2 linked regions of the Homo sapiens genome follow. Each later gene encodes a partner of the first gene's protein in a complex. Each region holds a gene or a part of one and is shown on either strand. Other genes may lie near its edges.

Region 1 (15,461 bases):
TCAGCCGGTATTCTAAGTCATAGACAGCAAATAGAAATGTTAATTTATTTTATTTTATTTTATTTTTGAGATGTGATCTCACTCTGTCTCCTAGGCTGGAGTGCAGTGCCGCGATCTCAGCTCACTACAACCTCTGCCTCCCAGGTTCAAGTGATTCTCCTGCCTCACCCTCCCAAGTAGCTGAGATTACAGGTGCACGCCACCACACTTGGCTAATTTTTGTATTTTTTTTTTTTTTAGTAGAGATGGGGTTTCACCATGTTAGCCAGGCTGGTCTCGAACTCTTGACCTCAAGTGATCCACCCGCCTCAGCCTCCCAAAGTGCTGGGTTTACAGGCGTGAGCCACCGAGCCTGGCTGTAAATGTTAATTTAATAGAGAACTATTTTTTTCCTGTGGCTTTTGTCTCTTTAATAGACAACATTACCATTTTCCTTTTGCTACCCAACCAGAGGGGAAGCCTGAGGTCTAAGACAAGTGCCAACTTCCCAGATAGTAGCTTCCAAACTTCCAGGAACCAGTACTCCGTTCTGTACTTTATGTACAGTTATGAAAGCAGACACTACCATTAAAGCCCTTGGCTCACGTTATTATGGCAGCCATCACAGCCTTATTAACTCGAGTTGGTAGACTGCCTCTTTTTATTAGTAAATCATGCTTCTCTGAATTCGAATAACAAGTCCAGAGGTCCCGATCTGAAGGCAATTTTGGGATTTGGAAGTAATGTTTGGTCTGCCATGAAAACCCAAAACTGTGATGCATCAGTCCATGGACCTGACCACGAGGAAGGTTCCCGACACCATGGACAACTCGGATTCGAGGTTGTAGTGAAGGCAAATCTTTTCTTAGTGAAACTCTGAAAAGGAGCCTGTACCCCACTGCTTCTAGGCTGGCTGTTCTCACACACTGGGAAGAAGAGGACACGGAATAGCACTTCCGCTCGCTTGTTAGTATGCCTCGATCTTGGTTTTACCATCATAGCCTGTCAGGATTTTATATCTTTCTCTGTGTTTCCACACGGTCACCGTGGAGGGCCATTAAAATGTTTGTGCAAAATACCAATCCAGGAAGGAACTCAGGGTACTCAGAGGCCCATGGCAACGGCATTAAAACCAGATGCCTTTGGCTTGGCACAGCCAATGTTGTACGTCCTTATAAACACTTACATTGGCCGGGCATGGTGGCTCATGTCTATAATCCCAGCACTTTGGGAGGCCGAGGCAGGTGGATCACCTGAGGTCAGGAGTTTGAGACCAGCCTGACTAACATGGAGAAACCCTGTCTCTACTAAAAATACAAAATTAGCCCAGCGTAGTGGCAGGTGCCTGTAATCCCAGCTACTTGGGAGGCCGAGGCAGGAGAATCGCTTGAACCTGGGAGACCGAAGTTGCAATGAGCCAAGATTGCATCACTGCACTCCAGCCTGGACGACAAGAGCAAAACTCGGTCTAAAACAACAACAATAAAAAACACTTCCATGATGCAGTACCTTCTGTTTACCATGGGCAGAAGCTAAAGACTTTTAACTCTGCATTTCTGATCTTCAGACTGTTACTCTGAAGTCTTAATATTCCATTTGAGAAAGAAAAATTACCAGAACATGCTCTTGAGTTTTCAAAAGTATATTTTTGTATGTACGGACACTATTCAATAAATCCCTGTCTAACACTATTTAGATTCTGTGAGAAACAAAACTACAGTTATCAATGTGGGCTGAGGTTTTCTGCAAAAGGCTTTATTTACTTGAGTGATATATAAGGTGGACCTTGAAGGAAATCTAAGGGATTATATAGGTAAAAGGATTCCAGTTGATGAAGAAGTAAAACCATCACATTTTTGCTTTAACTCTAGTCTTCCTAAAGATTCAAACCTATACCAGGCACAGTGGCTCATGCCTGTAATCCCAGCACATTGGGAGGCCGAGGCAGGTAGATTGTTTGAGACCAGGAGTTTGAGACCAGCCTGGGCAACATGGCAAAACCCCATCTCTACCAAAAAAAAAAAAAAAAAAAAAAAAAGCAAAAAATTAGCTGGGTGTGGTGGCGTGGTAGCACGTACATGTAGGCCCAGCTACTCGGGAGGTTGAGGTGGGAGGCGGAGATTGCAGTGAGCCAAGATCGCACCATTGCACTCCAGCCTGGGCAACAGAGAGATCTTGTCTCAAAAAAAAAAAAAAAAGATTCACTGACTGCCATACAATTTGGAAATAGAAGGGAGGGAAGAGGAAGAAGGAGGAGAAATGGGCTGGGCATGGTGGCTCATGCCTGTAATCCCAGCACTTTGGGAGGCTGAGGCGGGCAGATCCCCTGAGGTCAGGAGCTGGAGACCAGCCTGGCCAACATGGTGAAACCCCATCTCTACTAAAAAGAAATTAAAAAATTAGCCAGGCATGGTGGCACATGCCTGTAATCCCAGCTACTTGGGAGGCTGAGGCAGGAGAATCGCTTGAACCCGGGAGGCAGAGGTTGCAGTGAGCCAAGATCGCACCACTGCACTCCAGCCTGGGCAACACAGCGAGACTCTGTCTCAAAAAAAAAAAAGAGAAAAGAGAAATGGGGAAGACAGGGGAGAAGGGAAGTGCGTATAGAAAGAATGGAAGAAAAACAGTGAGCCAAAAGCAGACATCTCTTAAAATTCATTTCATCAACATTTATTGAGCATATAAGTTGTGCCAGGCACTCCAGCCTGGGCAGGATTTTACAGATGAGAAAATAGGCTTAGTGAGGTCCAGTAATTTGCCTGCAATCCTACAACTTGTAAGAGAATATGAAATATTAAGACATATTTTCAAAGGGCCTATAGCATATTCTGTGCCAGAGATGCTCCGTCTCTTAGGAATGATTCCGATCTAGTTGGAATAACTGTCATACAATTAGAATGATTCTGCAGAGTTATATCAAGAAGCTAGTAGACAAAATAACTTGAAGAATTCCGTTCTGATTCATCTTAGGGACCTTTTTGAGACAGGGTCTTGCTCTGTTGCCCAGGCTAAAGTGCAATGGCATGAGCATAGCTCACTGCAGCCTCGGCCTCCGGGGCTCAAGGGAGTCTACCACTTCAGCCTCCCTAGTAGCTGGGACTACAGGCGCATGCCACCAGGCCCAGCTAATTTTTAAATTTTTTTGTAGAGACAGGTTTTCACTGTGTTGCCCAGGCTGCTCTTGAACTCCTGGGTTCAAGCGAGCCTCCTGCCTTGGTTTCCCAAAGCATTGGAATTACAGGCGTGAGCCACCCCACCAGGTTGGGGCCTAATGATACTTTAAGTCAAGCTTGTCCAACCTGTAGCCCGCAGGCCACATGCGGCCCAGGATGGCTTTGACTGGGGCCCAACACAAATTCGTAAACTTTCTTAAAACATTATGAGAGATTTTTTTGTGTGATTTTTTTTTTTTTTTAGTTCATCATTGGTGTATTTTGTGTGTGGCCCAACACAATTCTTCTTCCAGTGCGGCCCAGGGAAGCCAAAAGATTGGACACCGCTGCCTATGCTTGCTTTCCTTAACGGAGGATTTGTCCAATTACCACTTTGTTTTTTCTTCCAATGGTTACTTAGAATTAATTCCCTAGGTACTTGGGAGGCTGGAGAGAGGGGATTCCTTGAGTCTAGGAGTTCAAGACTACAGTGAGCTATGCTGGTGACACTGCACTACAGCCTGGGGGACACGGTGGACCCTATCTCAAGAAAGAAAAGAGGCTGGCTGCAGCAGTGGCTCCTGCCTGTAATCCTAGCATGTTGGGAGGCTGAGGTGGGAGGATCATTTGAGCCCAGGGTTTCGAGGCCAGCCTGGGCAACACAGTGAGACTCTGTTTCTACAATAATAATAATAATTAGCTGAGTGTGATGTCATGCACCTGTAGTCCCAACTACTCTGTAGGCTGAGGCAGGAGGATTTCTTGAGCCTGGGAGGTCAAAGTTACAGTGAGCCGTGATCATGCCACTGCACTTCAGCCTGAGTGACAGAACAAGACCGTCTCAAAAACAACAACAACAACAACAACAACAAAGCCGGGCGCAGTGGCTCATGTCTGTGATCCCAGCACTTTGAGAGACCAAGGCAGGAGGATCCCTTGAAGCCAAGAGTTTGAGACCAGCCTGGGCAACAGAGTGAGACCCCCATCTCTAAAAATATTAAAAAGTTAGCCAGGCATGGTGACATGCACCTGTAGTACTAGCTACTTGGGAAGATGGCTTGAGCCCAGGAATTGGAGGTTATAGTGAGCTGTGATCGAGCCACTACACTCCAGCCTGAGTGACAGAGGGAGATCCTGTCTCTAAACAAAAAAATTTTTTTAATACAAAAGAACTAATTCTACCCTACTTACATGGTTAAGACGAAAGGCAATTGGAGGCCAGGCGTGGTGGCTCACGCCTGTAATCCCAGCACTTTGGGAGACCGAGGCAGGTGGATCACCTGAGGTCGGGAGATCAAGACCATCCTGACCAATGTAGAGAAACCCCATCTCTACTAAAAATACAAAATTAGCTGGGTGTGGTGGTGAGCACCTGTAATCCCAGCTACTCAGAAGGCTGAGGCAGGAGGATCACTTGAACCTGGGAGGTGGAGCTTGCAGTAAGCCAAGATCATGCCACTACACTCCAGCCTGGGCAACAAGAGCGAGCCTCCATCTCAAAAAAAATGTAAAAAGAGAAGAAAGGCGGTTGGTATCTAGAGGAGCAGGTCTCGGGTTGAAGCACTTTTGTTGCTAGTCGTGTGCTTGTTTGCTGTGCCGTCAGGTCCCCTCCCTGTGGACTTACTCACACACTGATTCCGCCCAAACAGTTCTTTTCAAACAAATGTTACCTCCCTGACTAAAAGCTTTCCAAGGATTCCCATGACAGTTGGAATAAAATCTGAATTTCTCAGTTGGGTCTCCGGGGTCCTGTGTGGTGCCCTTACCGACCTCCAACCTCATCCTGTCCTCCCCTCAACCCTCACTAGGCTAGAGCCTCCGGAGCTTTCTTTCAGTTCCTGGAATGTATCCAGGTCTTGATTGCTTCAGGATTTGGGCATATACTTATTCTTTTTTTTTTTTTTAGAGTTCCCTTAACCCTATTTTTCTTTTCTTTTTCTTTCCTTTTTTTCTTTTTCTTTTCTTTTTTTTTTTTTTTTTTGAGACAGAATCTCGCTCTATCACCCAGGCTGGACTGCAGTGGCATGATCTCAGCTCACTTCAACCTCCACCTCCCGGGTTCAAGTGATTCTTCTGCCTCAGCCTCCCGAGTAGCTGGGATTACAGGCGCCCGCCACCACTCCCAGCTATTTTTCGTATTTTTAGTAGAGACGGGGTTTCACCATGTTGGCCAGGCTGGTCTCAAACTGCTGACCTCAGCTGGTCGCCATGCCTCAGCCTCCCAAAGTGCTGGGATTACAGGCGTGAGCCCCCGTGCCTGGCCAAGCCTATTTTTCATGTGGTGGGCTTACCTGTCCTTCAGGTATCGAATGAGCCATCGCTTTCCCGAGAGAGTCCTTCTCAGACCTTCCAGAGTCTAATGTACTCCTCCCTTGTTATTTCCTCCCACAGCCTCTCGAGCCTTCCTTTTCTATCATTTTGCACAATTTTTGGAAGTTTACACATGTGTTTGTCTCTTTTTAACCACCTCTCTTCTATTAGACTGTAAGCTCTATGAGGGAAGGGAATATGTCTGTTTAGATCTCCACAATTTTCCTAGCTCAGTGCCTGGTGCTGAATAAATATTTTTCTTAATGACTATTGAGTCCTCACAATTGCCAAGCACTTGGTGACCTGCAAAAAGAAAGCGTTTTCACACGTGTTCTCAAGGAAACCTAATAATCACTCTCTGAGATACTTCAGGCAGGTTGGGTGTTTGTATGTTTGTGTGTTTGTTTTATAGAAAGTAAAAAGTTGGAGATTTGACTTGGCCAAGTTCACACAGCTGGAGGCCTGGGTGGGAAGTCAGTTCTTTTGATCATTTTGACCAGTGTTCTTCCTACCAAAATGAGAAAGCTGTGTGGGACATACGGAGTACAGCAATAATGTGCCTGGGAACTAATCTCACAGCCCTGATGCGCCCTGATTCTTAGAAATGCTGTGTTACTCACTTTCATCTATACACTTCATGATTGTTGGCTAAATTTCCCATTGTGTGACAGCGGAAAAATAGTTCCAGTTCCTTATTGATTTATACGCATAAAAGGGAACCGTAAGCCGCTGACTGAACTGAATGGAGGTAGAATGTATTTTCAATTTAGAAACCTGGTCTTTCCACTACAGAGTCAGAATGAGTATATTGCTAACCTCAAGGACCAACTGCAAGAGATGAAGGCAAAATCCAACTTGGAGAATCGCTACATGAAAACCAATACCGAGCTGCAGATTGCCCAGACCCAGAAAAAGTGTAACAGAACAGAGGAACTCTTGGTGGAAGAGATTGAGGTAATCCCTGGGACATTAGCCAAGAACCCAGGAGATGGCAATTGAGCTGTCACTCCTGATCCCCTCTCAGCTAACAAAGGAGGGAGACAAAGATTTCCCTCCATCTCTATCGGCAACAGCCCCTCCACTTGAGGTTGAAAATAAAAGCCTAAATGAGGATATGCGTGTTCGCAAGCAGAGATTCCAGTGGGCTGTAGCCTCCATCTCCCGCCTCATAATGACTTTGAAAATTGGCTGCACTTTCTCTCCTTGGTCACTTCTTATTTTGGCAAACCAATCACCATTTTTCTGACTAATTATAGGGAGAGGGCAAAACGAGGTGCTTAGTTATGGCAGGATTTTGCTGCTGTTTCTTTCATCTAACCAGTACCTTTCACTCCTCCAGTAAGAAATACAGCATCGAGAGCGCTGAACTTCGTTCAAACCTGAGTTTATAGGATGAGAAGTCACGGTGAAAAATGCCAGGAGGAAGAAAGAAGTGGTAGATCTTCTTTGAGGGGAATGCTAAATGGCACACACGCACGCACGCACACACGCACGCACGCACGCACGCACACACGCAAAGCCAGGCACTAGTCCCAGCTAATCGGAGGTGAGGCAGTGAGGCAGGAGGATCCTTGAGTTTGAAGCCAGCCTGGGCAACTTCAGACTTCAACTAGGGAGACTCCCTTCTCACAAAAAAGAAAAGAAAACAAGAAAGAGCAGCAGGCAGATGGGAAGAGGGAAGCAGGAACAAACGTCCTTGGGCCGTGGAATCTGTGTGTGGGAGGACTCCTCGCTCTGAGACTGACGTGGCTCAAGGCCACGTCAACACTCTTCCTGGCACTCCGGAATCCCCCTTTTTAAGCCCCACAGCCTTGTGCCCTTGGAGCGCCGTTTCTGTCCTTCAGTGGGCACCTCTGTTCAGCTCACGGGATTGTGCTCGTCTCGTTAGGGACACACGCAGTCCACACAGTGCCGCGCCACGTGGCTCTGCAGTGTTGGTGAACAGGAGTTGCAGGGAACTGAAAGCCCGGGATCCCAGCTGGTAAAGGGAGCCTCAGCTACCGACCGAGCTGCTGCTCTCATCTTGAGAACTTCTGATTCCCAGCCCTGCGGGGAAGACGTACTGGTATCTGATTGTTCTTACAGAAACTCAGGATGAAAACCGAAGAAGAGGCCCGGACTCATACAGAGATTGAAATGTTCCTTAGAAAGGAGCAGCAGGTGGGTCCCCACAGCTTTTCTATGCTTTGACTTTTTTTTTGTACTCTGCTTATACTGAGGAAACAAAAAGAATATTTTGAAGGAAAACCAACCATCATTCTTTCAGCCTAATGAACTTTAGCTCATGTTTTCTTTCAGGGTTATGCATCTGAATAGATATCTTATATAGCTGTAATTTGAGAGAGTGCAGGTAAAATTTTGTTTTCTGCTTTTATCATTGAGCTTACATAAGAAATTTTTCGATTTCTATATTGCTGTATACTCATAATTTTCAAATTATGACTTAATTTATGACTTAAAATTTATTAAGTCAAATTATGACCTACAAATTTATGGGCTGGGCACAGTGGCTCACGCCTGTCATCCCAGCACTTTGGGAGGCCGGGGAGGGTGGATCACCTGAGTTCAGGAGTTTGGGACCAGCCTGACCAATATGGTGAAACCCTGTTTCTATTAAAAAATACAAAAATTAGCCGGGCATGGTGGTGCGCCTGTAATCCCAGCTATTCAGGAGGCTGAGGTGGGAGAATTGCTTGAACCTGGGAGGCAGAGGATGCAGTGAGCTGAGATCACGCCACCGTACTCCAGCCTAGGCAACAGAGCGAGACCCCGTCTCAAAAACAAAAACCAAAAAAAGACATAATTTTTAAATTAATTATTTTTAAATTATGACTATATTTAAAAATTTTTCCCAATAGTATAGTGGCCAATAAATAAAAAAGAAAAATAAATAAAGGCCGGACATGGTGGCTCACGCCTGTAATCCCAGCACTTTGGGAGGCAGAGGCCAGCGGATCACCTGAGGTCAGGAGTTCGAGACCAGCCTGGCCAACATGGAGAAACCCCGTCTCTACTAAAAATACAAAAATTAGCCAGGCATGGTGGCGGGCGCCTGTAATCCCAGCTACTCAGAAGGCTGAGGCAATAGAATCGCTTGAACCCAGGAGGCAGAGGTTACAGTGAGCCGAGATCATGCCACTCACTCCAGCCTGGGCAACAGAGCAAGAATCTGTCTCAAAAAAAAAAAAATTTACTAATCTTTTACACTATAAAAATAACATTCCCAGTTGAGTGAAGATTTTTAAAATTACTCATTGCTTTTCATTTTTTATGTTATTACAGTTTCTTTATAAAATAATTGAAAATTGTGTTTAACGTTCCATTGAATGGTTGTGCCACAGTTTATTTGTTACACTTTTTTTTTATATTTAGGTTGTTTCTAAAGTTTGTTATTATAAATAATGCACTCATTAAAGCTTTGCCCAAAGAACTGTTTTTCTTCATGGCAACTATTTACTAAAAGCCAATCTCAGTCATGAGATTTTTGTTTCAGAGACTAGTATTTTGTGACTTTTAATAAACATTGCTAATACTCTCGAATCTGTGCTGCCGTTAGCAGTGTTGCAGGCAGTAATTTCAAGGTCTCTTCAATATTAGTAGCCATTTTCAATATTTTTCAAAGTCTGCTAATTTAATGAGTTGTTTTATTTTTTATTTTTGCTTATTAACAGGTGAACATAACATTTTTCCACATGTTTACTCAATTTATTTCTTCTTGTGTGAAATATATATGACACGGTGGTTTTAAGAGCATTTTCAATACTAATAACCAAGCTGGGTCTATAATATATCTAAGGTTAGAATTATGTCTAAGTCTACCTGGAGTCTTTCTTTCTTTTTTTTTTTTTTTTTGTTTTGTTTTTGAGATGCAGTCTTGCTTTACTGCCCAGGCTGGAGTGCAGTGGCGTGATCTTGGCTCACTGCAACCTCGGCCTCCTGGGCTCAAGCGATTCGCCTGCCTCAGCCTCCTGAGTAGCTGGGATTACAGGCGCACGTCCAGCTAATTTTTGTATTTTTAGTAGAGATGGGGTTTCACTGTGTTGACCAGGCTGGTCTAGAACTCCTGACCTCAGGTAATCCACCTGCCTCGGCCTCCCAAAGTGCTGGGATTACAGGCGTGAGCCACCGTGCCCAGCCCCAGCTGGAGTCTTTCAAAATAACCCTATTGGATGAATAAAGAGAAAATTTTCCAGCTTAGTTATAATACAGCTTGCCTTTGGAAAAAGCTAATGAGTTTTCAGTCAAGGATTCCAAATGTGTGGTTAAAGAGGAGAATTTGTAGATGCTCTCTTGCAGGTCTTTACTGAAAAAAATACCTGGTAGGCTATTAGAATTAGGGTTCTGTAGCCCTGCACTTTAAGAATTATGTATCATGTTACCTGTTTCAAGTGTGAGATACCTGGCAGGTGTTGGATATTTATCAGTGAGTTGGTAGATAAATGGATCACGAAGGGATGACGCCAGAGTTTCCCAGATCTTCAGCCCAATAACACAAGCAATACATAAGTATATATTTTTTTATTTTTTATTTTTTAGGGACAGGGTCTCTCTCTGTTTCCCAGGCTTCAGTGCAGTGGTGCCACCATAGCTCACTGCAGCCTCAAACTCCTGGGCCCAAGTGATCCTCCCACCTCAGCCTCCTGAGTAGCTGGGACTACAGGTGTGCACCACCACGTCCAGCTACAATTTCAGACAGAAATACATAGGTTAAAGAAAGTGAAAGCCCTCTTAAATTACTCCCCTTTCTGAAGGGAAGTTTCTTCCACATGTATTTCTTTTCATATACATACTTATACCTAAAAACATACCTATTCTCAGTGGTGGTTTTTTGTTTTGTTTTGTTTTTGAGAGGAGTCTTGCTCTGTTGCCCAGGCTGGAGTGCAATGGCGCGATCTCGGCTCACTGCAACCTCTGCCTCCAGGTTCAAGTGATTCTCCTGCCAGCCTCCCGAGTAGCTGGGATTACATGCACCTGCCACCACACCTGGCTAATTTTTGTATTTTTGGTAGAGATGGGGTTTCACCATGTTGGTCAGGCTGGTCTTGAACTCCTGCCCTCAAGTGATCTGCTGGCCTCAGCCTCCCAAAGTGCTGGGATTACAGGCATGAGCCACTGCACCCGGCCTAGTATTTGTTTCTTAAGTAAATTGGATCATGCTATATATAGTGTTCCAGAGCCTGTTGTTTTCTTCTTACATTTACTTTGTTTTTAATGTTTTCTGTAGCAGTACAGCTGATTGATAGAATATATCTCACACTCAGAATATACTGAAATTTAGTGAACCATTCTGTCAGTAGATTTAGGTTGTTTCCAGGTTTTTCTGTGATAACATTGCGAAACCTTCTTGGTTCTGTCTCTAAGTGTATGGTATGTGGAAAGGTATTTCTTTTGTGTATTGCTGTGGATTTGTTAAACCCTCTAATGGTTTTTCAGTGGATTCATTTGGATTTCCTAGGTGGAAAATCTTACTGCATGCAAATAACAATTTTATATTATCCTTTTTATTATTTATATGTCTGTTTTCATTTCATGGCTTGTTGTCTAGCTAGAAAGTCCAGTGTACTTGTTGGTTGTAGTAGTGACAATGGGGAATCCTTTTTCTATTATTGGTTGTTAATACAACACCACTGTTCTGGTGTTTTAGTCAGGATTACACATGAGTTTGTCATAGTCATGCCAAGTTACTGATATGCAAGTTAGAGCACTCACAGGGAAAGAACAGGACCCTGAAACTTGGAATGAGAACACCTGCTCAGATTCGGATGAAACTGGCAAATCACTTTAAAGCTCCCTTGGCAGCGGAAGTACCCTGCCCTCCTGTGTCTGAGGACACCGCACTTCCTTTGCCTGAAGATCCTGTGATAACTTCATCTGGGAGGATGCCTTGGAAAGGGTTGCTCGCTCTTCAGACCTGGTACAGTCACCCCTGTGATAACTTCATCTGGGAGGGTGCCTTGGAAAGGGTTGCTTGCTCTTCAGACCTGGTACAGTCACCCCTGTGATAACTTCATCTGGGAGGATGCCTGGGAAAGGGGTCACTCTTCAGACCTGGTACAGTCACCACCCCTGTGATGACTTCATCTGGGAGGATGCCTGGGAAAGGGTTGCTCGCTCTTCAGACCTGGTACAGTCACCACCCCTGTGATAACTTCATCTGGGAGGGTGCCTTGGAAAGGGTTGCTCTTCAGACCTGGTACAGTCACCACCCCTGTGATAACTTCATCTGGGAGGGTGCCTTGGAAAGGGTTGCTTGCTCTTCAGACCTGGTACAGTCACCCCTGTGATAACTTCATCTGGGAGGATGCCTGGGAAAGGGGTCACTCTTCAGACGTGGTACAGTCACCCCTGTGATAACTTCATCTGGGAGGGTGCCTTGGAAAGGGTTGCTCTTCAGACCTGGTACAGTCACCCCTGTGATAACTTCATCTGGGAGGATGCCTGGGAAAGGGGTCACTCTTCAGACGTGGTACAGTCACCCCTGTGATAACTTCATCTGGGAGGATGCCTTGGAAAGGGTTGCTCTTCAGACCTGGTACAGTCACCCCTGTGATAACTTCATCTGGGAGGATGCCTGGGAAAGGGGTCACTCTTCAGACCTGGTACATTCACCCCTGTGATAACTTCATCTGGGAGGGTGCCTTGGAAAGGGATCGCTCTTCAGACCTGGTACAGTCACCCCTGTGATAACTTCATCTGGGAGGATGCCTTGGAAAGGGCTCACTGTTCAGACCTGGTACAGTCACCCCTGTGATAACTTCATCTGGGAGGATGCCTTGGAAAGGGTTGCTCGCTCTTCACACCTGGTACAGTCACCACCCCTGTGATAACTTCATCTGGGAGGATGCCTGGGAAAGGGTTGCTCTTCAGACCTGGTACAGTCACCCCTGTGATAACTTCATCTGGGAGGATGCCTGGGAAAGGGGTCACTCTTCAGACGTGGTACAGTCACCCCTGTGATAACTTCATCTGGGAGGGTGCCTTGGAAAGGGTTGCTCTTCAGACCTGGTACAGTCACCCCTGTGATAACTTCATCTGGGAGGATGCCTTGGAAAGGGTTGCTCTTCAGACCTGGTACAGTCACCCCTGTGATAACTTCATCTGGGAGGATGCCTTGGAAACGGCTCACTCTTCAGACCTGGTACAGTCACCCCTGTTGTCACTGGATCCATAACTAGGGTCAAATCTTAGCATGTTACAGTGGGACATAAAACTCAGATAACTAACTCAGAAGGAAATCACTTACACACCAAAAGAATGGTAAGATTTTGCTAATAAATATTGGAAGAAACCTGGGAAACATGTCGAGTTGATTCTAAGAGTGTTAGATCCAACAGGGTAGGCTATCACACTCCATTTGTTTAATTCATTGATATAGATGCACTTACCAGAGAGTCTGGATTTCATGGTTTAGCTTGAGCAGCAGGAGGTGACTCAACATTTGCCTACATTTGATGAGGTGGAGATGTCAGAGCTTCCCTGCTATGATTTGGGGGAGAGAATCCAAAGATGTAGGGAGACAGGAATGTCACAGTGGATTTATCATGTGTGACTTACACGTCTACCACCAAGCACCCATTCCTAACCATGAGAAGGCCCAGAAGACACTTCTTTACTAAGACATTGAGAAATAGAATAGTGAGGGGAGCATCTGCCTCTCTAAAAGCTCTGTGCTTGCTTTCCTACATAGGCAGGTGTGACCCTAAGGATGTTGTCATTGAGATGAGCTTCCTGGTATCAGTGGGGTGATGGGATCCTGAAGTGCCTCCGGATAATTGGGAGCACTTAATTGTCAGAGATAAGGTGGGCACATTTACCACGAAGGGCGGCAGAGATGTAATCAGAATGCCTTTGGCCACTGGGATTCTTGGCAATGGCTAATGAATGATGGTATCTCTAGGAACAAAATTGTTGGGCTGCCTACTCAAGTATAACAGAAAAAAATTCTGGGTCTGGTAGCCAGAAACCTGATTTGAATCACCACAGCAGAGAGTCACGGCCTCTCCCCTAGCTCTTAGGACTGAGTCAGTTCACAGCCCCAGGGCCCCTTTATGAACTGGGGTGTGAGGGTGTGGGGGGATTTCCCCCAAAGAATGAACTCTGCAGCCCTGCTGCAAGTACCTACTGTAAGTCTCCCTCTAGGCCCTACTCAGAAGACCTGTGCTATTTACAGAGTGACTGTGCACTGGGGAAAGCAAACTACCCAGGCCTTCTGAGATGACTGAAGCATTGGCTCTGAATTGATGTTCATGCACGGGGACCCAAAGTGACAGCGTGGCCACTAGTCAAAATGGGAGATTAATGGTGGTTAGGTGACAGATACCTTACTAAAAGTTTTTTTTGTTGTTTTGTTTTGTTTTCCTAATCTGGATGCGTACTCAATTAGGGAAAAAAAAAAAAGAAAAACAGTTTTTTTGTCCATTGAGTTATTTTTTCTCCTTTAATATGTTAATAAAGTAGAATACATTGAGAGAGTTGCTGATTTGAGTCATCTTTAAATTCCTGGGATAAACCCTACTAGGTCATAACGTGTTTGGCCAGCAGGAATCCTCCTGCGCGGTCTCAGTAAAACGTGTGGGTGGACAAGTGCGGCCGGGTGTCCCACCCACATACCGCTGGCAGCCGCACTCTGGTGACCGGACAGTGAGACGCCCTCCTGTCGTGTGCCTCCAGCGCCCTCTACTGACACAGCTTAGCATTTTGTCAGCTGGCAAGAAAAACGTTCACAGCAAGCATCCACTTTCACAAAGCAAAGAGGTGGATTTGGAGCTGACAGGCAGTAAATTGGTAACTGCCACAAATGAGTTTTTTTTTTTTTAATCATCAACTGTGAGATTTACTCTGTAGGTTTCTGGTAGACAAGCTTTATCAACTTCAGGAAGTATCTTTTTTTCTTGTTAAAAGTTTTTCTTCTCATCAGGATGAGTACTCAATTTTGAGATGGATTTTTTTTTCATTAATTGAGATGATATTGTTTTCTCTTCTTTAATATGTTAATAAAGGGAAATACATTAATAGACTTGCTGATGTTGAGTCATCTTCAAATTCTTGGGATAAACCTTACTCGATCATAATGTGTTATTCCTTTTTTTTTTCTTCTGAGATTGGAATTTTGTTCTTGTTGCCCAGTGGCACGATCTCAGCTCACCGCAGCCTCCGCCTCCCGAGTTCAAGTGATTCTCCTGCCTCAGCCTCCCGAGTAGCTGGGATTACAGGCGCCTGCCACCATGCCTGGGTAATTTTGTATTTTTTTTAGTGGAGACAGGGTTTCTTATGTTGGTCAGGCTGGTCTCAAACTCCTGACCTCAGGTGATCCACCCGCCTCAGCCTCCCGAAGTGCTGAGATTACAGGTGTGAGCCATCACACCCGGCCTGTTATTCCTTTAATAGACTGCTGAAAAACTGATTTATAGACTTAAAATTGTTTCTATTTTAAACTCTTTTCTTTTTCTAATTTTTAATTTTTGTGGGCACATAGTAGGTGTATATACTTATGGAGTGCATGACGTACTTTGATACAGGCGTGTGACACGTGGGAGTCACATCAGGGGAATTGGGGTCTCCATCACCTTGAGCCTTTATCCTTTGTGCTACAAATGATCTCATTACACGCGTTTGGTTCTTTTTAAATTTACAATTAAATTATTGACTATGGTCGCCCTGTTTTGCTACCAAATGCTGGGTCTTATTCATTCTTTCTACTTTTTTGTACACATTAACCATCCCCACACCCTCCGCATCCCCCACTACCTTCCCAGCTTCTGGTAACCACCCTTCTACTCTCGACCTCCATGAGTTCAATTGTTTTAATTTTTAGCTCTCACAAAGAAGAACATGTGAAGTTTGTCTTCCCCTGCCTGGTTTATTTCACTTAACATAATGACCTCAGTTCCATCTATATTGTTGCAAATGACACAATCTCATTCTGGGCCGAATAGTACGCCATTGTTTATATGTCCCACCTTTTTAAATTTATTTATTTATTTACTCCTTTTTGAGAGGGAGTCTTGCTCTGTTGCCCAC
Region 2 (15,461 bases), on another chromosome or scaffold:
GTCAGACACCGAGTCTCGCCTTCTGAGATTGGCGGGTAACCTAGCAACGCAGGGACCGCGGCGGTAACTGTGGCTAGGGAAACCTGGAGCGGTCAGAGCAGGTGAGTAGCCAGTTGGGAAAGGGTCGCGGATCGGGGGAGATGTGGAATAGGGTTCAGCCCTCTGTCCTTTGGCTCCCTGAGGAATTAGAAGCCCCCGCTGCGATCTCGTCTCAGCTTCAGGACCCTGTCCCTCAGCTCCTGCCTTAGTCTGGACCTTTCGCTCCACAACCTGCAGGGAGCCGGCCTCCATTCTGCCCTTCTACCTGCCCACTTCATGGCTCCACTCCCTCATCCCTAAAACGAGGAGGACAACAGTCAAGCAGAGTCATATCGTAGTTAACTTATTTCAAGTCAAACATGGGAGCTGTGGGTGGGAGGGGAGTTTATAAGTCCCCTCCCATTTCACCCAACGGCCATACGTTCCTCGGTGAGCAGGCAATCTCACTTCAGTGTTTAAATTAGGTAGTTTTGTTTGTTTGTTTTGTTGTTGTTGTTGTTGTTTTTGCCGAGCATGGTGGCTCACGCCTGTAATCCCAGCACTTTGGGAGGCCGAGGCGGGCAGATCACTTGAGGTCAGGAGTTCTAGGCCAGCCTAGCCAGTATGGTGAAACCCCATCTCTACTGAAAATACAAAAATTAGCTGAGCATGGAGGCGCACCTGTAATCCCAACTACTCGGGAGGCTAAGGCACGAGAATCACTTGAACCCGGGAGACTTAGGTTGCAGTAAGCCAAGATAGCGCCATTGCACTCCAGCCCGGGCAACAGAGCAAGACTCTGTCTCAAATAAATAAATAAATTAGGTAATTTTTATTACACCACTTTTGCCTTTATCCTAACTTTGGAATTTAACTCCCATCTCCATCCTTAAGATGTGATCTCATTGTACCTACTGAAGACAGAGAGTTTCTTGTGATGATTAAATGAGGCTAAGGGCCGGGCGCGGTGGCTCAGCCTGTAATCCCAGCACTTTGGGAGGCCGAGGCCAGCAGATCACCTGGGCCAGCAGATCACCTGAGGCCAGGAGTTTGCGACTAGCCTGGCCAACATGGTGAAACCCTGTCTCTACTAAAAATACAAAAATTAGCCGGGCCTGGTGGCGTGTGCCTGTGATCCCAGCTACTCAGGAGGCTGAGCGGGAGAATTTCTTGAACCCGGGTGGTGGAGGTTGCAGCGAGCCGAGATCGTGCCACTGCACTCCAGTCTGGGTGATAGAGCGAGACTCCAGCTCAAAAAATAAATAAATAAATAAATAAATAAATAAGGCTGAGGTGGGAGAATTGCTTGATCGCAAGAGGCGGAGGTTGCGGTGAGCCATGATTGCACTACTGCACTCCAGCCTGGGCGACAGAGCGAAAAACCCTGTCTCAAAAAAATATATAAAAAAAAAACTTTGAGGTTCAAAAGATATTTTCATAAGAAAATGAAAAGATCAGCCACAGACACAGACATGGAGGAAATATTTGCAAATCATGTGTCATAAAAGAGTTGTATATAGAATATAAAAATAACTCTTATAACTCAATAAGAGGACAACTCAATTTTTTTAATGGGCAAAAGAGTTGAGTAGACATTTAAAAATCAAAAAGACAATACCAAGTATCATCATGTAGATAAATAAACAAACTGTAGCTTTCATATGTTGCCGGTAGGTACAGCAGAATACCAATTGGTACCACCAATCTGAAATATAGTTGGCAGTTTCTTAAAAAGTTAAACATAGGCCAGGCACAGTGGCTCGTGCCTGTAATCCCAGCACTGTAGGAGGCACAGGCAGGTGGATCACCTGAGGTCAGGAGTTCGAGACCAGCCTGGCCAACATAGCAAAACCCCGTCTCTACTAAAAATACAAAAATTAGCAGGGCATGCTGGCGGGTCCCTGTAATCCCAGCCATTTGGGAGGCTGAGGCAGGAGAATCACCTGAACCCAGGAGGCGGAGGTTGCAGTGAGCCGAGATCGTGCCACTGCACTCCAGTCTATGTGACAGAGTGAGACCCTGTCTCAAAAATAAATAAATAAAACAAAAAATAAACTTACACATAACCTAGCAATTCCACTCTTAGGAAGTTACCCCTCCCAAGTGAAAACATAAGTCCACACAAAGACTTAAATATAAATGTTCTTAGCAACATCACCCTTAACAGCCCAAAACTGGAAACAACCCAAATGTCATCAACAGGTGAATAAATAAATAACTCATGATATTTCCTTAGAATGGAATACTATTCAGCAATAAAATACTATTCAGGAATGAAATACTAATAATTGCTACAACCTGGATGAACCTCAAAAACATGTTAAGTTGAGGGTTTTTGGCCCAGTGGCTCACGCCTGTAATCCCAGCAATTTGGGAGGCCAAGGCAGGAGGATCCTAGTTTGAGCCTAGGAGTTTGAGCCTAGGAGCCTGGTAACAAAGTGAGACCCTATCTCTACAAAAAATACAAAAATTAGCCAGGCATGGTGGTATGCACCTGTAGTCCCAACTATTCAGAAGGCTGAGGTGGGAGGATCACCTGAGCCTGGGGAGGTCAAGGCTACAGTAATCCATGGTTGCACTGCTGCACTCTAGCCTGCGTGACAGAGTAAGACCCTGTCTATTAAAAAAAAAAGGCAGCCGGGCACGGTGGCTCACGCCTGTAAATCCCAGCACTTTGGGAGGCCAAGGCAGGCAGATCACCTGAGGTAGGGAATTTGAGACCAGCCTGACCAACATGGAGAAACCCCGTCTCTACTAAAAATACAAAAAAAAAAAATTAGCTGCGCGTGGTGGCGCATGCCTGTAATCCCAGCTACTTGGGAGGCTGAGGCAGGAGAATCGCTTGAACCCAGGAGGCAGAGGTTGCAGTGAGCCGAGATCACGCCATGGCACTCCAGCCTGGGAAACGAGAGCAAAACTCCATCTCAAAAAAAAAAAAAAAAGGTCAGGGTTTTTCAACCTCAGCTCTATTGATGTTTTGGGTGAGAAAATTCTTTGTTGTGGGGAACTATCCTGCCAATTGTAGGATATTTAGCAATATTACGAGCCTCTACCTACAAGATGCCAGTAGTAGCCTCTCTCAGTTGTGACAAGCAAATGCATCTCCCGATTATTGCCAAATGTCTTCTGGAGGGCAAAGTTGCCCCAGGTTGAAAACCACTGTGCTAAGCAAAAAGTCAGATGCAAACAATTACATACTGCATGATCCCATTTATATGAACTATCCAGGAAAGTTACATATGAGTGGAGGCCAGGGGCAGTGGCTCACGCTTGCAATTCCAGCACTTTGGGAGGCCAAGGAAGGTGGATTACTTGAGCCCGGGAGTTCAAGACCAGCCTGGGCAACATGCTGAAACCCTGTCTCTCCTAAAAACGTAAAAATTAGCCAAGCGTGGTAACACGCACCTGTAATCCCAGCTACTTGGGAGGCTGAGGCACGAGAATTGCTTGAACCAGGGGGGTGGAGGTTGCAGTGAGCCGAGATTACGCCACTGCACTCCAGCCTGGGCGACAGAGCGAGACTCAGTTTCAAAAACAAAACAACCACAACAAAAAATGTGAGTGGAAGCAGAGATTGTTTGCAGATTAGCTCATGGGAATTTGGGGGGAGTGATAGAAATGTTCTAAAACTGGATTGTAGTGATGTGGCAACTTCAGATACATTTACAAAAATAGTCACTGAGTTTTACACTTACAATGGGTGAATTTTATGGTAATGTAAATTATACCTCAATAGAGCTGTAAAAAAAAAAAAATTACACGTGTGATTAGTACTATGCAGGAAAGGTGAGAGAGTTTCCACAGGTTGTAAAGTGCTGTCTGTTCCAGTCTGAGGAGGGGTAGCCATTGAGCTAAGACCTAAAGAATGAGAAATTGTTAATCTAGGGAGAAATTATTCCTGGGGGGTTGGTTTCTGACAAAAGGAACATTATACATTAGTGCCTGAGAGCAGGACGGGTTTGAGATAGGCTGTTTTTTGTTTTGTTTTTTTGAGACAGAGCCTTTCTCTGTTGCCCAGGCTGGAGTGCAGTGGTGCAATCTCAGCTCACTGCAACCTACGCCTCTTGGGTTCAAGCGATTCTCCTGCCTCAGCCTACCAGGTAGCTGGAATTACAGGTGCCCAACACCATGCGCTGCTAATTTCTGTATTTTTAGTAGAGACTGGGTTTCACCATGATAGCCAGGCTTGGTCTCGAACTCTTGACCTCAGGTGATCCACCCACCTCGGCCTCCCAAAGTGCTCCCAAAGTCCTGTAATCCCAAAGATTACAGGAGTGAGCCACCGCACCCAACCCTGTTTCGTTTAATTTTAACTCTAGTCCCAGTTGGCAAACTGATTTCACTGCCCAGTAAAGGGTTACAACCTTAAGATTTTATTTTTTAAGCAGTTTTAGATTCACAGCAAAATTGAGAGAAAGGTAGAGAGAGTTCCTACATACCCCCTATTCCCACATGCACAGCCTGCCCCACCGTCAACCTCCCCCACCAGAGTGGTGCATTTGTTACAGTTGATGAACCTACATTGACACATCAGCAGCAGCATCCAAATTCCATAGTTTACATAAGGGATAAGGGTTCACGCTTGGTGTTGTACATTCTGTGAATTTGGACAAATGTATAATGATGGTATCCATCATTGTAGTAAGGTACATAGTATTTTCACTGCCCTAAAAATCCTCCCTGTTCTGCCTATTCATCCCTCCCTTCCCCCAGCCCTTAGACAACACTGATCTTTTTACTATCTCCATAGTTTTGCCTTTGCCAGAATGTCATATAGTTGGAGTGATACCATATGCAGCTTCTTCAGATTGGCTTCTTTCACTTAGTGATATGCATTTAAGTTTCTTCCATGTCTTTTCGTGGCTTGACAGCTCATTTCTTTTTAACACTGAATAATCCTGTATTCCATTGTCGGGATGCCCCACTGTTTATCTACTCAGCTCCTGAAGGACATCTTGGTTGCTTCCAAATTTTGGCAGTTGTGAATGAAGCTGCTATAAATATCCATAAGCTTTTTGTGTGTGCAGGTTTTTGTGTGCACATGAGTTTTCAACTCCTTTGGGTAAACACCAAGGAGTGCAATTACTGGATCGTACAGTAAGAGCAGGTTTAAATTTGTAAGAAAACAACTGTCTTCCCAAGTGGCCGCACCATGTTGCATTCCCACCAGCAATGACAGAGTTTCTGCTTCACATCCTCACCAGCATTTGGAGTTGTCGGTGTTCTAGATTTTGTCCATTCTAATAGGTGTGTAGTAGTTAAATATTTTTTTCAAGTTGGAGAAGTTGATTATAGAATAATCTAAATTCACTACTAGGAAATTCTTCCTTCTGTCTGAAACTGCCAAAGTGATGCTGTCTACACTTAGATATAACCAGAAATAAGCATTTCTAAAGTGACACTGTAACCAAAAGAGGAATTAAAATTCCTGATGAACTGATTGATAAGGAGGGGAGACTGGACAATGGGGAGTGATTTAAGGGAACTTGGTCTTCTTCGGTCACTAACAGGAGAACATGAATAATGCAGAAACCAGCAAAATTAAAAACAAAATAGTAAAAAGGAGTAAAAACTGCTTCTGTTTTGACTTTTTATAAAGCCTTTGATACAAAAACATATACCATATTATTTTGTGGAAAAGCACATCTATTTTAAGAAACATTAAAGTGTTGATATTAACATAATTTTTGAAGTAGTACTAAAAGTCATAAAAGCGTAACACTTTTGAGCAAGGATTTCATTTCATTCCCTCAACAGTGCTGTGTCCCATTTCACAGGTAGAACGTCAAGGCTTAGAGAGGTTAATCGACTTACCCAAAGCCACACAGCCAGGAAGTGGTGAGACACTGGAATTGCATTCCAAATGTGTTTTTCGTTTCCACTTCAGTAATGAGGAAATGAAAGCCCAGAAGATCAAGTGGACTTGCCCAAGGCTATATAGCTTGTGGTCAGTGGAAAGTATTTCATCATAACCAGCAACATAGAAATCTGTCCCGGGGGGCATGTTCCCTCCCAATCTGAGTCACTATCCCATGTCCTCTGTCTCCAAAGCACCAGATAATCCTGGAGCCTGCAGCCACCCAGCCAGCATTACAAACAGGGTCCCAACTGTCAATACCTCCAGCATTCATTGCTGCAGCCCTAGCCTGGGAATCTTTTACAGACCAGTTGTAAACCATAAAACACAGGTTCTCAAAAAGAACAAGAGAGGAGGATTGGGTAATAGTTCAAAATTAGTCACAGAAAGAAAAAAAAAACCACTCAACTATGAAAAAGTAAAAAATTCATTACATTTAAAACTTTTGTTTAAAAAATTCCAAGCCCTGAGTAAAGGGATGCAAAAGAATTCATAGGCCAATTGTTGGCCTACAGTTCTATCATGAAAATATGACTCTCTTTTCTGGCTCCAATTCAGGACATATATATTTTGCAAAACAACATTATCCTATTATGCCAGCATCTCCCAGTGAGGAGACAAGCCTGTTGGTAAATCTGGGTTTGCCATCTCATTTATTCAACAGTGATTTCTTTTTCTTTTCTCTTTTTTTCTCTTTTTTTTTTTTTTTTTTTTTGAGACGGAGTCTCACGCTGTCACCCAGGCTGGAGTGTGCAGTGGTGCGATCTCAGCTCACTGCAACTTCCATTTCCCTGGTTCAAGTGATTCTCCTGCCTCAGCCTCCCAAGTAGTTGGGATTACAGGCATGTTTCACCACACCCGGCTAATTTTTGTATTTTTAGTAGAGATGTTTCGCCATATTGCCCAGGCTGGTCTCAAACTCCTGACCTCAGGTGATCCACCTGCCTCGGCCTCCCACAGTGCTGGAATTACAGGTGTGAGCCACTGAGCCCAACCGCAACAGTGATTTCTTTATTGAGCACCTACTGTATAGTAGTTGGTTGGGATAGCAGGTTTCATCATGAATCTGTTGCTTCTTTCTAGCCCCTCACTTTCCCCCTCCCTAGACTTGAAAGCCTCAGATAAAACATACAGAGTTCGGAAGAAAGCTAGAGGTTTGGAGGGTAGTGAGATCTTTCTGAGGCTAAAAAGAAAATTCCTCTTGAGCCCAGGAGTTCAAGACCAGCCTGGGCAACATAGCAAGACCTTGGTTTTTTTGTTTTTTGTTTTTGTTTTTTTTGAGACAGAGTCTCACTGTGTCACCCAGGCTGGAGTGCAGTGCTGCAATCTCGGCTCACTGCAACCTCCACCTCCCAGGTTCAAGCAATTCTCCCGCCTCAGCCTCCACAGGTGCCCACCACCATGCCCAGCTAATTTTTGTATTTTTAGTAGGGACAGGGTTTCACCATGTTGGCCAGGTTGGTCTCAAACTCCTGACCTCAAGTGATCAACCTGCCTTAGCCTCCCAAAGTGGTGGCATTACAGGCGTGGGCCACTGCGCCCGGCCAGAAGTCAATCTTAAAATCAAGAGACTGGACAGAATAGTGCTGATGGGGTGCAGGCCCTGTCACTTCCTAGCTGTAAACTAACTAGAATCATCTAACCTCTCTCTCTGTCTCCCTTTCTTCATCTGTGAAATAGAGGTAATAATAGCACCTACCTCATAGGGTTGTTGCAAGGATTAAAGGAATTAATTCGTATATAGCATTCAGAACAGTGTCTGCTACACAGTAAGTTCTCAAGAACTTACTTAGCTAATGTTAAAATGGTATTCCTTAAAATGAGATCCGGATGAGGATGGAAAAACTACCTATCAGGTACTATGCTTATTACCTGGGTGATGAAATAATCTGTACACCAAACCCCCATGACATGAAATTTACCTATATAACAAACCTGCACATGTAACCCGAACCTAAATTAAGAGTGAATTTAAAAAGAGAGAGAGAAATCCATTTCCCACACTCCAGTTGTTTTGGTTTTTTTTTTTTTTTTTTTTTTTTTTTTAGCACCCTCTGACTTTTCCACTTGCCAGTTTGGATTTGTAGGGTAGTTGTTAAGTGTTGGGTTTTTTCCTTCTCTCCAGGGGGAAAAAATATATAATTTAGTTCAAATCTTTTTTTTCCTCAAAATATTCTAAGAGCAAAATTAATAAAATATCCAACAAGCCTGTTTGAATGAAGACGAGGTATAATTTGCATGATAAAGATATATTTCCATTTATAAAGTTCATCAGCAGAATTAATGACAAATAAAGGGAATATCCAATTAAAGTTTCCCATCCATTAACAATTTGCTTCACTCTCAGGGCAGGAATTTTAAACGGAGATGCTTAAGTTGGAAATGATTTAAATATTAAGGTTGGTGGCATTAAAAAGGACATGAAATGATCATATTAGGATTCAAGGAAAAGAGATTCTCCAGTCATTTTTGTCGTCAGAGTCAGATGCATTTCCCCTCAATCCTAGTTCCACGGGCTTTATCTTGTTCACCCAAATGAGCTGTCAAGAAATGATGGGTGTCATCATAATCAAAGAAAACAAGTTTGCCCTTTAAAGCAAAAGAGGTAATTTGGCTGAAAGCAAATTGGAAACATTTCATGTAACGTTGCGTTTCCAGCCGCACTCTCTGAAGAATTCAGGCATTTTGATTTATGCCTGAGAGCTTTGGGGTACAATGGAGAGGACTGCATTCATTAACTACCTTGTTCACATTCATCCTGTAGCCATGGGCAAAGATCCTTCATCCTCAGAGAGCCTGAGAAATCTCCATGGCTGTCCCTAAAACTTTTTTTTCACTTACAAGATAGGATCTAGGCTGGGCATGGTGGCTCACGCCTGTAATCCCACCACTTTGGGAGGCCAAGGTGGGCAGATCACCTGAGGTCAGGAGTTTGAGACCAGACTGGCCAACATGATGAAACCCTGTCTCTATTAAAAATACAAAATTAGGCTAGCGTGGTGGTGCACGCCTGTAATCCCAGCTACTTGGGAGGCTGAGACAGGAGACTGCTTGTACCTGGGAGGCAGAGGTTGCAGTGAGCCCAAATCACACCATTGCACTCCAGCCTGGGTGACAACAGCAAAACTCCAGCTTAAAAAAAAAAAAAAAAAAGAGGAGAGATAGGATCTCGCTCTGTCACCCAGGCTGGAGTGCAGTGGTGCGATCATGGCTCACTGTAGCCTCAACCTCCCTGGCTCAAGCAATCCTCCTGCCTCAGCTCCCCAAATAGCGGGGACTACAGGCACCTGCCACCATGACAGGCTAATTTTTTTTTTAACTTTTTGTAGAGGTCTCATTTTGTTGCCCATGCTGATCTTGAACTCCTGGGCTCAAGGAATCTTCCCTCCTTGGCCTCCCAAAGTGCTTGGATTGCAGCTGTGAGCCACCATGCCCAGCCTCCTAAAACTTTGTCTTCAGGAAAAGCCTCAAAGGATCTCATGAGATTCATTAGGGAGCAGGAAGTGTGTGTGAATCAAAGTGATTGAAGATAATTCCCAATCCTCTGCTCCCAAAGGGGCTTCTGGTTTGTTTTTTGTTTTTTTGTTTTTTTAAGAGACAAGATCTCACTCTGTTGCTCAGGCTGGAATGCAGTGGCCTGATCATAGCTCACTGCATCCTCAAACTCCTGGGCTCAACAAATCCTCCTGCCTCAGCCTCCCAAAGTGTTGGGATTACGGGCGTGAACCATGATACCTGGCCTGATATTGAATACATTCTGCCTTGCCAAGGAACTAAACATCCTTAGCACCTGATCTGGCCTGCCTTTCTTTTTCGTTCTTAGTCACTTTGGGTGTTTCTTTGATTCCCTGCCATTCTCTTGGTGTGTTCTTTGGTTTGGTGAGTTGAAGTTATCTTTTGTGGCTTCAAGTGTCACTTCCTTCTCCTGGGCAACATAGCAAGACCCTATATCTACAAAAATAAAAATACAATAATTAGCTGGGAATGGTGGCACGTGCCTGTAGTATCAGCTACTCGGGAGCATGAGGCAGGAGGACTGTTTGAGCCCAGGAAGTCGAGGTTGCAGTGAGCCATGATCGTGCCACTGCACTCCCTGGATAATGGGAAGGCCAAGACACCATTGTCCACTGCAGTATGGCAGCTAGAGCTCAATGAGTTTAAAAGTGAGCTCATTGTCCTCCCCTCCAAATGTCCTCTCCTCTCCCAATTTCTGCCATAGTTTCTTAAGGGCCCCATCTTTCTCTACCAGTCACCCAAACTCAAAACTCTTTCACTCAAGTCCTAATGATTCTTTCTTCAAAACATTTCTCACATCTACAGACAATATGAAAATAAAAGTGGCACAGGTAACCTGTAAGTAGTAACTTACAGCTTTCATTGGTGCTTACTTCTTAGGAGAGGGGGAAAGACAGACAATAAACAAATAAACAGGTGCATATAGGGATGTCAGATGGTGATACTTAACCTGGAGAACGAACAGGATAAGGGGGAAGAGATGAAGAAGAATCAGGGTGAGGGATGGGGATGTTATGGGGGGTGTCCATCTGAGACATGGTGTTGGGGGGTGAGCAGACATCCTGGGCAGTAGGTGTTCTTTTTTTTTTTTTTTTCTTTTTTTCTTTTTTAAGAGATGGGGACTTGCTATGTTGCCTGGGCTGGTCTTGAACTCCTGGGCTCAAGCGATCCTCCCACTTCAACCTCCCAAAGTGCTAGGATTACAGGCGTGAGCCCCTGTGCTTGGCCAAGGCAGTAGGTGTTCGTTCAGCAATTGCATCAGAAATCATTAAAGTCCTGGACTTGGGATTTTCGTTTTCCTGGGTTAGTGCTATTAGTTATTTATTGAACATTTTTTACAGCGTGCAGGCTTCTCATTCATCCTGAGGACTCTTGTTTTACAGCTGAGGAAGCCCAAGCTCTGGAGGATTAAATGACCAGCCCAGAGACCCCCAGCAAGGATTTGAACCCAAGTGGGGCTGTGCAAAGCTAGTACTTTTAGCCATTGTACTATGAAAGCAATATAAATTACTGATCTCTGATTGCCCTATAGATTTTTCTGAAACAGTTATTTATTTGTCTATCTATCTTTTGAAACAGAGTCTCATTCTGTTGCCCAGGCCGGAGTACAGTGATGCAAACTTGGCTTACTGCAACCTCCGCCTCCTAGGTTCAAGAGATTCTCATGCCTCAGCCTCCTGAGTAACTGGGGTTAACCTGAGTAACAGGTGCGTACCACCATGCCTGGCATTCTCTCGTATTTTTATTAGAGACGGGGTTTCGCCATGTTGGCCAGGCTTGTCTTGAACTCCTGACCTCAGATGATCCACCTCCCTCGGCCTCCCACAGTGCTGTGATTACAGGTGTGAGCTACCATGCCTGGCCTGAAATAGTCTTTTAACTAAACTTTTTACTTTGTAATAATTGTAGATTTATAGAAAAGTTGCAAAGATAGTACAGAGAGTTCCCGTATGCCCTCCATTCTGCTCCCCCTAATGTTAACATCTTAGATAACCTTGATGTGTTTGTCAAAACCACAAAATTAGGCCCGGCACGGTGGCTCCTGTCTGTATTCCCAGCACTGGGAGGCTAAGGTGGGAGGATTGCTTGAGCCTAGGAGTTCAAGATCAGTCTGGGCAACATAGTGGAGCTCATCTCTATAAAAAGTTAAAAAATTAGCTAGGCATCGAGCACCTATAGTCCTAGCTACTTGAGAGGCTGAGACAGGAGGATCACTTGAGCCCAGTAGGTCGAGGCTGGAGTGAGCCATGGTCACACTATTGCACTCCAGCCAGGGTAACAGAGCGCCTACAAAATTAATGTTGGTACAATGCTATTAACTAAACTTTAGACTAGATTTGGATTTGGATTTGGATTTCTCCAGTTCCACTAATGTCCTTTTTCCACTCCAGAACCCAATCCAGAATACAACATTACATTTAGTGAAACAGTTTTTTAAATTGTATTTCAAAGTTATATTTCACCCACCAATTTTTAAAATCAGTACTTAAAAATGGCCAGGCGTGGTGGCTCAGGCCTGTAATCCCAGCACTTTGGGAGGCAAAGGCAGGTGGATTGAGAACAGCCTGGCAAACATGGCAAAACCCTGTCTCTACTAAAAATACAAAGATTAGCCAGGCGTGGTGGTGTGCACCTGTAGTCCCAGCTGCTCAGGAGGCTGAGGCAGGAGAATCACTTGAACCCAGGAGGCAGAGGTTGCAGTGAGCCGAGATCATGGCACTGCACTGCAGCCTGGGCGACAGAGCAAGACTCTGTCTCAAAACAAATAAACAAACAAACCAAAAAACTTTAAAATCAGTGAAAATGTGCCATTCCTAGTCCTGTTAGTCTTACACTGCATTCTGCCCTGTCCCTGTCCTGCTCAGACATAGGCTGAGGCCTGTGGTTCCGTCGCCCAGGCTGCTTGTCAGTTGGTTTCCTGCTGGTTTTGGCCAAGGGCAGTAGAAAGAAACCAGGGTATTTCTCCTCCCCCACCGCCACCCTTCTTTAATCTGCATTTCCGGCAATGTCTCTAGCTCCTCTGGGAACTGATGGCTGTGGTTCAAACTTCCCCTGGGTGACCCTGGGCCCCAGGCTCACCATCTCTTCATGTGGTGGCTTCCTGCCATTGACAATTGCGGGATGGCTTTGTCTTCCCCTGGTTGGCCTCTCAACTCTCCCATCACTGATGTAACCAGTCTCTGGTTTTAAATCCTTAGAATGCTGTCTGTATGCCTGGCTGGTCCCCGCCTGACACATGTGCCTGAGATGCCTCCACACTTGGTCTTCCTGCCCTTGTGGCCCTAACACCCTCACAAAGCTGAAAACTGCTTCCAGTGAAAGGTTCTGTGTAAAAGCGACAGAGGACCTAAGATGAACTCTTGATGTCAACAGTTGTGGTTTCTGCAGCCACACTAACCACACAGATGTCAGCACAGCTGCACTCACACCTACTTCTTCATTTTGCAGGATGGCCAGAGACAATAAAAGCACGAGACCCAAGTAGTCTACCGAAGTCTCCATCTCTGTGGACCTACAGAGGCACAGAGGGCTGCTCACAAGATGGCTTTAGACATTCTCGCCATGGCCCCTTTGTATCAGGCCCCTGCCATCAACAGAATAGGGCCAAAGACAGACCCATCTAAAAGGCCAGCTGATCCACTAAAACCCTTGGTTCTCTCTAGGACCAAACTCACCACCATTGAGGCCAAAAGGATCATGTCCATCCTGGATGAGGCGATCTACAAGGTGGAGCTGGTGACCTTGCTGTCGTATGTGGCATCCAACAGAGAGGATATGGAGGGGATGCTGGGGGAGGACGTCATGAGGGCAGTGAGAGAGCATGAGGATCTCTGCCAGGTCCTCCTTGAAAACGTCAGGTGCCTGAAAGAGAAAGAAAGGCAATTGCAGGAGCAGAAAGAGGCTGAGGAGGAAGGGTGGCTCAGAGACCGCCTCCTTTCCATAGAGCTGCAGAAATCCAGCCTCTCACCACTTATGCAGCAGATCAAAGACTCCACCAAGAACGTCCTTAGACTCTTGCTCAGCAACCCCCAGGCTGCTAGGCTCCTGCAGATGCAGACACAGGGTAGAAGTGCAGAAGCCCAGAATTTTATTGACAGCCTGATAGAGCTCCGTGGTTTCCTGTTTGAAAAACTACTCACTAGTCCCATGGAAGCGAGGGATAAGGCCCAGTTCTTACAGGATATCAGTAGACAGAATAGTAATAACCAACAAATCATTGATACTCTTGAAAAGGAATTGGCGGAGAGAATGAAGAACAGGAATGCAGAGGTATTGTTTCATAGTATTGCTGAAATTACTGAAGAAGCCACACAAATCTTTTGTTGGTTGGGTTTTTCCTCAATGATTGATTTTTTTTTTAAGATGGAGTCTCGCTCTGTTGTCCAGACTAGAGTGCAGTGGTGTAATCTCGACTCACTGCAACCTCTGCCTCCCAGGTTCAAGCGATTCTCCCACCACAGCCTCCCAAGTAGTTGGGATTACAGGCGTATGCCACCACGCCCGGCTAATTTTTGTATTTTTAGTAGAGACAGGTTTTCGCCATGTTGGCCAGGCTGGTCTAGAACTCCTGACCTCAAGTGATCCTCCTGCTTTGGCCTCCCAAAGTGCTGGCCACTGCGCCTGGCCAATTGATTGACTGATTTTTTTGAGACAGGGTCTCACTCTGTTGCCCAGGCTAGAGTGCAGTGGCATGATCACAGCACACTGCAGCCTCCATCTCTCAGGCTTAAGCAATCCTCCCATCTCACCCTCCCAAGTAGCTGAGACTACAGGTGTGTGTCACCATGCCTGGCTAATTTTTTGATTGTTTGTAAAGATGGGCTCTTGCTACGTTGCCCAGGTTGGTCTCGAACTTCTGGGTTCAAGAGATCCTTCCGCCTTGGCCTCCCAAAGTGCTGGGGTTACAGGCATGAGCCACTATGCCCGGCCTCCCCAGTGATTTTTTTTTTTTTAAGATGGAGTCTTGCTGTGTCACCCAGGCTAAAGTGCAGTGGCAACATCTTGATTCACTGCAACCTCCGCCTCCTGTGTTGGGAATGGGTGCTCGGTGTCGCCAAAATCAACACTGAGACAAAGGATCTCTCAGCAAGGCTAGTTTACTCTCTGCAGAAAGGGTGCTGCTTGCTAGCAGTCTTGCCACAAGAGCACACATGAACAAAAGAGACGGGGTCATTTATAACCTGACGCATCCACCCTACTGCTGTGTCCAGTTTCCATTGGCTGGAACAGGACCTCACATTCTGTACTCAACCCGATTGGCTAGCAATTTAGAACTTCCCAAAAGAGGCAAAGGCAGAGGGAAACAAAGGAAGAGAGCAAGTAACTCCTGGAATGCTGAGAGAGGCAAAAACACCTCCAAATAAGGAAGAGGAATAGGCTATGACCTAATGCTTGCTTGGACCGGTTCAGGTATGCCAAGGCAAATATCTAAGCTAAAATGTGGGAGCTAAGAACAGAGTATATTGATTTCTTTTTTTTTTTTTTTTTTGAGGCGGAGTCTTGCTCTGTCACCCAGGCTGGAGTGCAGTGGTGTGATATCAGCTCACTGCAAGCTCCGCCTCCAGGGTCACACCATTCTCCTGCCTCAGCCTCCCGAGTAGCTGGGACTACAGGTGCCCACCACCATACCCAGCTAATTTTTTTTTTGTATTTTTAGTAGAGATGGGGTTTCACCGTGTTAGCCAGGATAGTCTCGATCTCCTGACCTCGTGATCCGCCCACCTCTGCCCCCCAAAGTGCTGGGATTACAGGCGTGAGTCACCACGCCCGGCCTATTGATTTCTTTTTTTTTTTTTTTTTTTTTTGAGACGGAGTCTCGCTCTGTCGCCCAGGCCGGAAGCCGGACTGCGGACTGCAGTGGCGCAATCTCGGCTCACTGCAAGCTCCGCTTCCCGGGTTCACGCCATTCTCCTGCCTCAGCCTCCCGAGTAGCTGGGACTACAGGCGCCCGCCACCGCGCCCGGCTAATTTTTTGTATTTTTAGTAGAGACGGGGTTTCACCTTGTTAGCCAGGATGGTCTCGATCTCCTGACCTCATGATCCACCCGCCTCGGCCTCCCAAAGTGCTGGG

What was found.
Region 2: DRC9 (region 1) and DRC10 share a complex: the UniProt entries of both Homo sapiens proteins name them as parts of the nexin-dynein regulatory complex.

What each region holds. Positions count from the first base shown.
Region 1 is NC_000003.12:197,904,815-197,920,275, reverse strand, and holds part of DRC9 (dynein regulatory complex protein 9), read left to right. Parts: intron 1-6,233; coding exon 6,234-6,395; coding exon of another isoform or gene 6,396-6,440; exon of another isoform or gene 6,441-6,554; intron 6,555-6,780; exon of another isoform or gene 6,781-6,876; intron 6,877-7,526; coding exon 7,527-7,601; intron 7,602-9,944; exon of another isoform or gene 9,945-11,704; intron 11,705-11,837; exon of another isoform or gene 11,838-14,592; intron 14,593-15,461. UniProt on the Homo sapiens protein: Component of the nexin-dynein regulatory complex (N-DRC), a key regulator of ciliary/flagellar motility which maintains the alignment and integrity of the distal axoneme and regulates microtubule sliding in motile axonemes.
Region 2 is NC_000012.12:113,205,637-113,221,097, reverse strand, and holds the start of DRC10 (dynein regulatory complex protein 10), read left to right. Parts: upstream 1-3; 5' UTR 4-101; intron 102-10,969; exon of another isoform or gene 10,970-11,097; intron 11,098-12,588; exon of another isoform or gene 12,589-12,838; 5' UTR 12,839-12,931; coding exon 12,932-13,660; intron 13,661-15,461. UniProt on the Homo sapiens protein: Component of the nexin-dynein regulatory complex (N-DRC), a key regulator of ciliary/flagellar motility which maintains the alignment and integrity of the distal axoneme and regulates microtubule sliding in motile axonemes.